Linked DNA regions of Homo sapiens: regions 1 and 2 are each linked to region 3. The links come from fine-mapping of genetic effects on gene expression. A gene starts in region 3. Each other region holds a variant in brackets. All regions are shown on one strand. Distances are between the middles of the regions.

Evidence for each region.
Region 1: its variant is fine-mapped to the expression of TTLL5 in tibial artery (GTEx, PIP above 0.99).
Region 2: its variant is fine-mapped to the expression of TTLL5 in whole blood (GTEx, PIP above 0.99).

The regions. Positions count from the first base shown.
Region 1 is chr14:75,626,614-75,629,376 of GRCh38, forward strand. All of the region lies in intron 3 of FLVCR2 (FLVCR choline and putative heme transporter 2), which reads left to right. Among named protein-coding and RNA genes, the nearest start is that of ERG28, 33 kb to the right of the region's middle. The variant A/G (reference allele first, on the strand shown) is at 1,018.
Region 2 is chr14:75,713,922-75,716,684 of GRCh38, forward strand. All of the region lies in intron 9 of TTLL5 (tubulin tyrosine ligase like 5), which reads left to right. Among named protein-coding and RNA genes, the nearest start is that of TTLL5, 54 kb to the left of the region's middle. The variant C/A (reference allele first, on the strand shown) is at 1,403.
Region 3 is chr14:75,659,500-75,662,262 of GRCh38, forward strand. TTLL5 (tubulin tyrosine ligase like 5) reads left to right here and starts at 1,747. Exons shown (of 32, transcript NM_015072.5): 1 at 1,747-1,888. It overlaps ERG28 (ergosterol biosynthesis 28 homolog), which reads right to left and starts at 1,377. Exons shown (of 5, transcript NM_007176.4): 1 at 1,276-1,377. RefSeq lists a silencer at 1,439-1,488 and an enhancer at 1,599-1,818.

The DNA.
Region 1 (2,763 bases), 33 kb before region 3:
GCTTAGAGAAGTCCAACTAAGGAAGTTACAAGTTCCCCATCACCGGAAGGTATTCAAGCATAGATGGGACTAACCACTTGATGGGAATGTTGTAGGGGATCTCAGGCTAAAGATGGATAGTGAAACCAGATGGCCTTTGGGGGCCCTTCTAGACTCAGGATTCCATGACTCTAAGAGCTTTTACTTTCGCTAGAGTTGGACATCATGAGTGCATTGACCTCTGACAACCATAAATCTTGCTGCATCTAACAAGAGGATATTTGAGGCCTACCTGGGATTCTAGGGCAGATGAGTGCTTCATAAATATTTTCTATAGCTGAAAATGGTGACAGTGGTGATAACTGGGCAATGGTCCCATTCCAAAGGCTGTGGTCCTCAGTGCTGGAGGTTGTTGGTCTTAGGGCCAGGTCACTGACTCATGAGAACAAGAAACAGAGACAAAATGTACCAGAAACATTGTTGCTCCTGGTCATCGAGGGGTCAAGCCTAGGCCATGCTGTGGGGAGCAAAGCTACTCCTCCTCCTTCCTCTCACATGCCTGTTTGCTTACGTGGTCTTTAATCTGACAAAGTAGTTTTAATCCTGTACTTCTGGACACTTTTCCTTATCTATTTGATTAAATGATAACCGAGGAAATAAATAGGAAAGCACTTCTTGAATGGTGGAGTAAGGACCTTAGAAAATCCGCTCCTCTATAGAAACAAGAACAATGGCAAAAAATATCCAAATGAATTTTTTCAGAACTTTTAACAAATGGCTTGCAACAATCCAAGCAGCATTTATTCAAGAGAAATGGCTAAATATCAGTAACAACAGTGGGCCTTGTGTTTTCACTTGCCCTATTCCAATCCCTTTCTCCCTACTACAGCCTTGCAGCCATGGGGCTGTGACATCCAGCAGCCTCGCAGCCGTGGAGCTGTGAAAACCAACTGTCTCATAGCCATTGGAGGGAGCAAAGTCGATTTGGAGCTCCACCCCTGAGAATTACTATTTGACCTACCTAGCAGGTCCCCGGAA[A/G]AGCCCTATTCATAGGACATGTTGCTATTTAACCTGACTTGGAGTTTGCTAATGGGAAAAGCCCTATTGCCAGGGCATTTGTTGAAAACAGTCAATGGCACTGCTTAACATTGTAGCTGCCTGCAGTGGGGATAACAGTTGGGGTGAACAAGAGGCTGCCTGAAAATGCTGAAAGGAAACTCTGGAGAATGTGATGTCCATATGGGGTTCTTTGCCAAAAAGAAAATGATTCTTAGACTTAATCACAGATTTGAAAAAATTTTTGACGGAGGAATCATGTTAATTGCTTTACATGCATTATCTCATTTAATTTTCAAAACAAACCCATGACATAGCCCTTTGTTTCATTTTATACATGAGGAAACTGAGGCTCTAGAGTTTTAGCTTCTTGCCTATAGGGCGAGAACTATAGGCACTTACTCCAACTGTTAATCTTTGCTTTCTTTTCCTACTGTGTTTGTTCCAAATTAAAACAAACAAAAACAAAAACAATTTTTTTTTTTAAACAGAGTCTTACTCTGTCGCCCAAGCTGGAGTGCAGTGGCATGATCTCGGCTCACTGCAACCTCCACCTTCCAGGTTTGAGCAATTCTCTTGACTCAGCCTCCCGAGTAGCTGGGATTACAGGTACCCGCCACCACATCCAGGGAATTTTTGTGTTTTTAGTAGAGACAGGGTTTCACCATGTTGACCAGGCTGGTCTCGAACTCCTGACCTCAGGTGATCTGCCCGCCTTGGCCTCCCAACAAAAACAATTTTCTAAAATGCCCTCTATCAATTCAACTAGATGCTTTGAAATCCTCCAGAATTACCCCAGTCCTCCTAATCCCCTTGCAGTTTCAGATTGGACTTTGAAGAACAAAATGGTTCATACTTTTTACATTGTACACATAGTGTTCATATTTAGCTCTGAATTATATGCATTTAAAGAGCATGTGGCTAGGAATTAAGCAGGCAACAGCATTTCACAGGCACATGTACTGGACATGGGTGGACATGTCTTGGGTTAAGAGCCTTGAGTGCTGGACTCGTAAGTTCAGAGTTGGCTCATAAGAAATGGGAGGTCTGAGTTTTGGTGTCAGCTCTGCCAGATACTGAGTGTACCACCTTCATCCATCTGTGCTGCCCATCCTTCATCTCTTTAATACTCTCCACCCCCACTAGAAAACAGTAATGATACTTATTTCCCATTGGAGTGTTCTGAATGGAAGTGAAAGCTTTTAATGCAGTTGAGAATAAAGACATGGCATGCCTCCAGACTGCCAGTCTGCCATTGCCAGACTGCAATGCTATTGCATTGGTAAACTTACTGGTTTCCAGCGTTGCTTCTTTGGTCCAAACCAGATTTCACTAAGAGGGGGAGTAACTGTCCTGCAGCTGGTGGTATTGTATTTGTAGTGGCTTTTCAAGTGGTTCTCCCAGCTGATGAGTCAACTGCCCAGAACTGAGGTGCAGCGATAATTGAAGGCCTTGGAGGAAATCGAGGGTCCAAGTGTTGCTGGCTTTTCCCTAGACTTCTGGCTACACTCTTAGAGGTAGGGTTGAGAGATAAAATAAAGACCATCCAGTTAATCTGAATTTCAGATAAACAACAAATACTTTTAATATAAATATGTCTTATGCAATATTTGTGGCATATTTATACTAAGAACTATTATTTATTATAAATGTATTTATTTGCTATTTTTTTTCAAAATCTGGCAATTCAGTTTAGAGGGGGAGAGGTGCAGGGGTGGAGCTCGTGCT
Region 2 (2,763 bases), 54 kb after region 3:
GATCTCATTCCAATTCTGCCAATTGTCCTAAGATTTTTTTTTTTTTTAATTACAAAAGGATCCAATCAAGGATCACATGTTGTATTTAGCCGTCGGGTCTCCGTAGTCTCCTTCAGTCTGAAACAGTTCCTTAGTCTTTCTTTGACTTTCATGATCTCAGCATTTTTGAAGATTACAGGCCAGTCATTTTGTGGATTGTCCCTCAGTTTGGGCTTGTCTGATATTTTCTCATGAAGAGACCTAGGTAATGCATTTGGGGCCAGAATACCACAAAAGTGATACTAATTCTTGTCATTGCATTATATGTGATGGCACATGCTAGTCATTTAGTGGTGTTTGACCATTTGCTTTAGGTCATCTGCTAGATTCCTCCACTGTAAAATTATTTGGTCTTACCCTTTGTAATTAGTAAGTATTTTATAAGGAGATACTTTAAATCATGTAAAATTTCATTCTTCATCTCATTTCTCATTTTTAAGAAAAATCTATTGATTTTTCTTGCCTTAATGAATTATTGCTGTAATAGTTGCCAAATGATGATTTTTTAATTCCATCATAACTTTTATTTCTTGGCATTTTTCTGTGAGGAAGAGCTTTATCTTCTCGTTTATTTATTCATCTATTTATTTATACCAATGCAGACTCAAGCGTTCCTGTTTTATTTAATGGGTTATAATTCTTTACTATCATGATTTATTTTGATGCTCAAATTGTCCCAGATTTGGCCAGTGGGAGACCTCTCAAGCTGGCTTTGTGTCCTTTTGACATGTCTTTATCATTCTTTGAGCACAAGATGTTTCAGGCTCATCTTGTTCTTTCTCTATTCTATCCCTGGAATCAACCATTTCTCCAAGGAGCACTGGTTGCTTTTTCTTGGAGTATAATATTTAGAAATCAATATCTGGGTGCTAGATACGCTCATTGTTTTGGGGCATTTCTGCTTTCAGACCCTGGCCATGAGCAGAGTTAGGAAATTATGTATTTATGTACATATACACTTGTACATCTGTATTTCTATATCTGTCTCTAATGTATTGTTGAAAAATAGAAGTTTATACTAGTACGCACAATTCTAGTTCAAAACTACAGAGTTCCTTCTTGTTTTTTGCTTTTCATATTTTAAAATCTCTTTTCCAACAGCAGGAAATCTGGCTCGCAGTATCTTTAACATATTTATTTATTTGCTCAATTCCTTTGTATGTGGCCAGTTTCCTGACCCCACTGGGCCACTGTCCCATTCAGATGCCGTTTTTATATGGATTTATACCCTTATTTGGTGGCCTCCCTGCTTAGAAAACCTCCTTGTGCTTCTGGCTGACTTCCCACCCTACTCACCATCTTCCTTTTTTTTTTTTTTTTTTTTTTGTAACTCACCATCTTCCTCATGTGGGCCCTGGCTACC[C/A]CTGGGCTGCAAGAAGGAAGGTCTGATTTTTATATGTTGTTCAGGTAATTAAAGTTTAAAAGAAAAAACAAAGCTTTTGTAGGTTAATCAGAACTTGACCAGTAGGTCACATTCAAGACTAATGTGACCTGTGGTCTAGACAATAAAAAAGAAAATAGTGGTCAGATGATGATGATGGCTTATTTACTATGGATTTTAGTGAGAGCTATAAGCTCTTACTGGGGTAGGAGGAAAGATGAACATGCACACCTTTTCTCTCCATAGTGTATGTTCCCCACTAGACTGAGGGAGATATGGAGTGGAGCACTTTCACCCTTCAGGGGAACTTTTCCTTTAAGCTTTTTTGTTTCACTTTAATTTTTGCTGCTTCTGCTTCATACACTCAGTTTAGAATTCCACGCTTTGATATTAGAAATCTTATCCTTGCTGGGGTTCAGAATAAAATGCTCCAGTGAAAAGGAAGATTAGGAAGAAGAAACATGATTTTTTTTTTTTTTAGATGTGCAGCCCTCTTGAAAAAAAGAATATAGGAATGACAAATGTGTTGGTACCCGATTCCAGCTCACCACAGACTTTTGTCAGGCTTTTCATGTTGACCAAGTTAGATCAAGTACTTGTAGTAACTACAAGAGATGAAAAGCCTCTTTTTCTGAAGCAGAAGCTTTCCCCTCCTTCTAATTCATTGTTCTTTGAGGGGAGAGGATGACAGGAGGGATGTCACCTTGAGGTAATGTCTGGCTGAGGCAGGCAGCCAGCACGGGGCCCCTTTGCATCTCACAAGAATTCAGAGAATGACAGTCTGCAACTTGCTTGGACAATCTATTAGAGGAAGATTGGGATGCATAGGCAAGGGTTACTCACCAGGGCACTGGGGTGTGACATGGCTAGAAGTTAAGTGATAACTACTGGAAGTTGGAAGTTTCTAGAAAATCTGGGGTCCTTCTCAAGCACAGACATAATAATGCTCATCAAACTCTTGTCTTTTAGCCTAGTCATCATTTTCTCTTTGTCCACATCCTTTTTCCTAGCCTCATGTTTGTTTATTTTAGTTTTTTGGGTTTGGGGTTTTTTTTCTTTTCACTATTCTTTCTTTGGCTCTTGTATATTTCTGGTACAGGGAATTAGGGAGTGGAGATAGTGGGTGGATGAGAAGAAACAGAGAAGAGGAAAGTTTTTTAATGCTGACCTTTAATGTGGTGAAAATTCATGTTGACTTCATAGTCTGAGTAAGCATATGTAAATAATTTGTAAGTCATATGAAAATAAACTTGTGGCCTTCTTTTTTTTTTCACACACTTGGATATGCCTCTTGGGAAAACCACTCTAGTGAAGGGTGATATGGTTACAGTGGTATGTAAACA
Region 3 (2,763 bases):
TCCACTCACCTTGGCCTCGCCTCCCAAATGCTGGGATTACAGGTGTGAGCTACAGCACCCAGCCTTTTTTTTTTTTTTTTTAAGGCTTAGTTCAACTCTTGTTGAGTAGTAATTTCAGTTAGTCTGATTTAAATAAAACCAAAATAGATAAATAATCTAATAATGGAATGACTTTTTCCCATCCTCATTATTATTTTCTTGGTCCACGGTTTATCTGTTGTCAGGTTAACCTCTTGGGCCTGAAGTGGTAATAAACTAACAGGCTTTCTTTGTCACTTTGGCAATACAAGTTTCGGTATTGTTCTCTGCTACCCAGTGGGACAGATATTAAAGTCAGCAATGGCCCAAGACAGTGTGAAACACCGCCGCCCCCCCCCGCCAACTCCCCGCCCCAAACAAGCAATAAAGAGATCTAGAGAAGGAAGGGTGAATTGATGAGCCCTTCAGGGAGAGCTGGATCACAAAGGTGGTCTCTGTCGAAGATCAGAGAGACTGAGGGTCTACTGGACATCACAGGCCATTATCATTTGGGCCAAGATCCACCCATCCTCTTTATTTTCTCACTCTCTCTCAAGAGGAGACTCCTCCGGGGTTTAGAAAAGCTGCATGGATGCACCTCTCCACTTTTCTGCACAAGTATGCCTTCCATTTCACAGAAGTGTTATCTGTTAGAAATCCCAACAGATAGCTGATGAGGACAGAGCCTGAGCACTTCTGAATTGCTCTGCCAATTTCTCAACCTAATTTCCCTAAAGCTTAAGGGCCTCTTAGAGTGTATACAACATCTATTTCCAAATTTTGTCCTGGCCCTGGCCCAGCCCAGCCAAGCCCAGCCCAGCATAGGTGTGCTGTTAAAACTTAATCAGGAGAAAGGGATTCTTATCCTGGCCCTACCACTTAGTAGCTGTGTGACCCTGGGTAAGTCATTTACACTTTTCAGTCTCGGTTTCCTCATCTGCAAAATGGAGATAGAAATATCAACCCGAAGGGCTATTGTAAGAATTATATGACAAAAAGTGAAGGCTCTTTGTACAGTGCTAGGCTCATAGTGGCTGCTCATTCGCTCATCCATTCCTTCGTTCCTTGAATTCACCAAGCCTTCTCCATCTTCCTAGCTCCCCCTTGTCATCGCCTCTCGAAACCTTTTCCCCCCAAAAGGTTGCCTTCCAGTTATCTTCCTTCCATCCCACCTCCATTTTTCCAGACTCTCCGGATCCTCTCAATCAGAAGCAACACAGACACCTACATCCCTCTTCTCCCCCATATTCTCCTTACCTGGCGACCGGGCCCCCAGCACAGCAGTGGCAGCAGCAGCCGCTGCCGCAAACAAGCTCCCCCAGGACAGCTCCAGCCCGGAGTCCACCTGAGCCATTTGTCCCCGCCCCCTCCCTCAGCCCTGCTCCAGGATTGGGCCGTTTCCGTCAGTACTCTCTCTGATTGGCTGTCCCGGTTTCGCCCGAGCAGGAGATGGGGAGTGAACCCCTTTACTGCCAATCAGCGGTTGCCGCTGCCTAAGCCTCTCCCCAGGTACGCCGCTCACGCCGTAAGCCCTCCTGTTGGACCTAGCGGAACTCCGGGTTTGGAGTCAACCTCTTAGGGGCGGAGAAAAAAACAGCGGAAAAAAAAAAAAAAAAGAAGACTCCCTTCAGCTGAGGGCAGGGCTCTGCGCCCGCGCTGCGCGGCGGTGACGACATTCGCCCGCGTCCGCAGCTGAGCGTTATGAGCGCCTGCGCAGTGGCTCCGAGCGGGCGGTTGCTTGTTGGTTGTTGTAGTAACCGGGGAAGCAGCCGTCGGCGGCTGCCCTGAGCCTTCCTGGGGAAGGAGGAGGGAGGTAGGCGCAGAGCGCGGTCCACGCCTGCTCGCCCCGAACCATGGGAAGATGAGACAGGTAAACGCCTGCGCCCGCGCGCTTCCCTACCCTAGGGAGGAGCATTCCCGGGTCCGGGCTGGCGCCTGCAGCAGGACTTCCCGCTCAGAGCCCGGGAGTAGCTGTTGGCTTCCGGGCGCGCCGCGTTGAATCGCGGCTGCGGGGTCGTCCCGTCCTTCCCGGGGGGAGCATCTGCGGACCTACGTGGGATTGGGGTGAGCTGGGGGTGGGGCTGAGAAGCAGATTCCTTTCGGGAGAGGAGTCTCCTTAGGTGAGTATCTCTACTCTTCTTCCGATAGACCTGTTTCTCCCCGCTCTGCAGGCAGCCTAGGAGAGGTTGGCATCCCTTCCCGTTTGGAGGTTTTGTTTGTTTAAACTTAAAGGGCTTCCCAGCATTTTGGGAAAGATCAAGAAATCCCGTTGAGAATCCCCTGAAGAAAGCCATTGAAGTTGTTAGACATTGCCTATTGCGCCGAAGATCTTTGATCATTATCGGGGTCTGTTTTTTTTTTGTCTTATTTACAGTCTCATCGTATTTATGAATGCATGGAAAAGTTAAGAAGGATTGACAGCAAGTAATTATCGCTGAGTAATTTGGGATTATGGTCATTTAAACATGTTTCTTTTATTTGTAGTTCCTATTTCTTCTTCTGACACACACAACGAACATGTACTTTTTTACTTTAGAAAAAATATTTTAAGTTAGAAATGCAGTGTTGGAAATTTCCTAATTTCATCGTCTATTTGAGAGTCGTACCAAACTTTGTGATTTTTAGGAAGAATAATTTTTAAGAGTGGAAGGGCATTCCTCCCCTCCCCCACCTATTTATATGGACCTTTGATTCAAGAGAATATATTCATCTTTCGGTTCATTGTTGAATTTATTTTACTGGAAA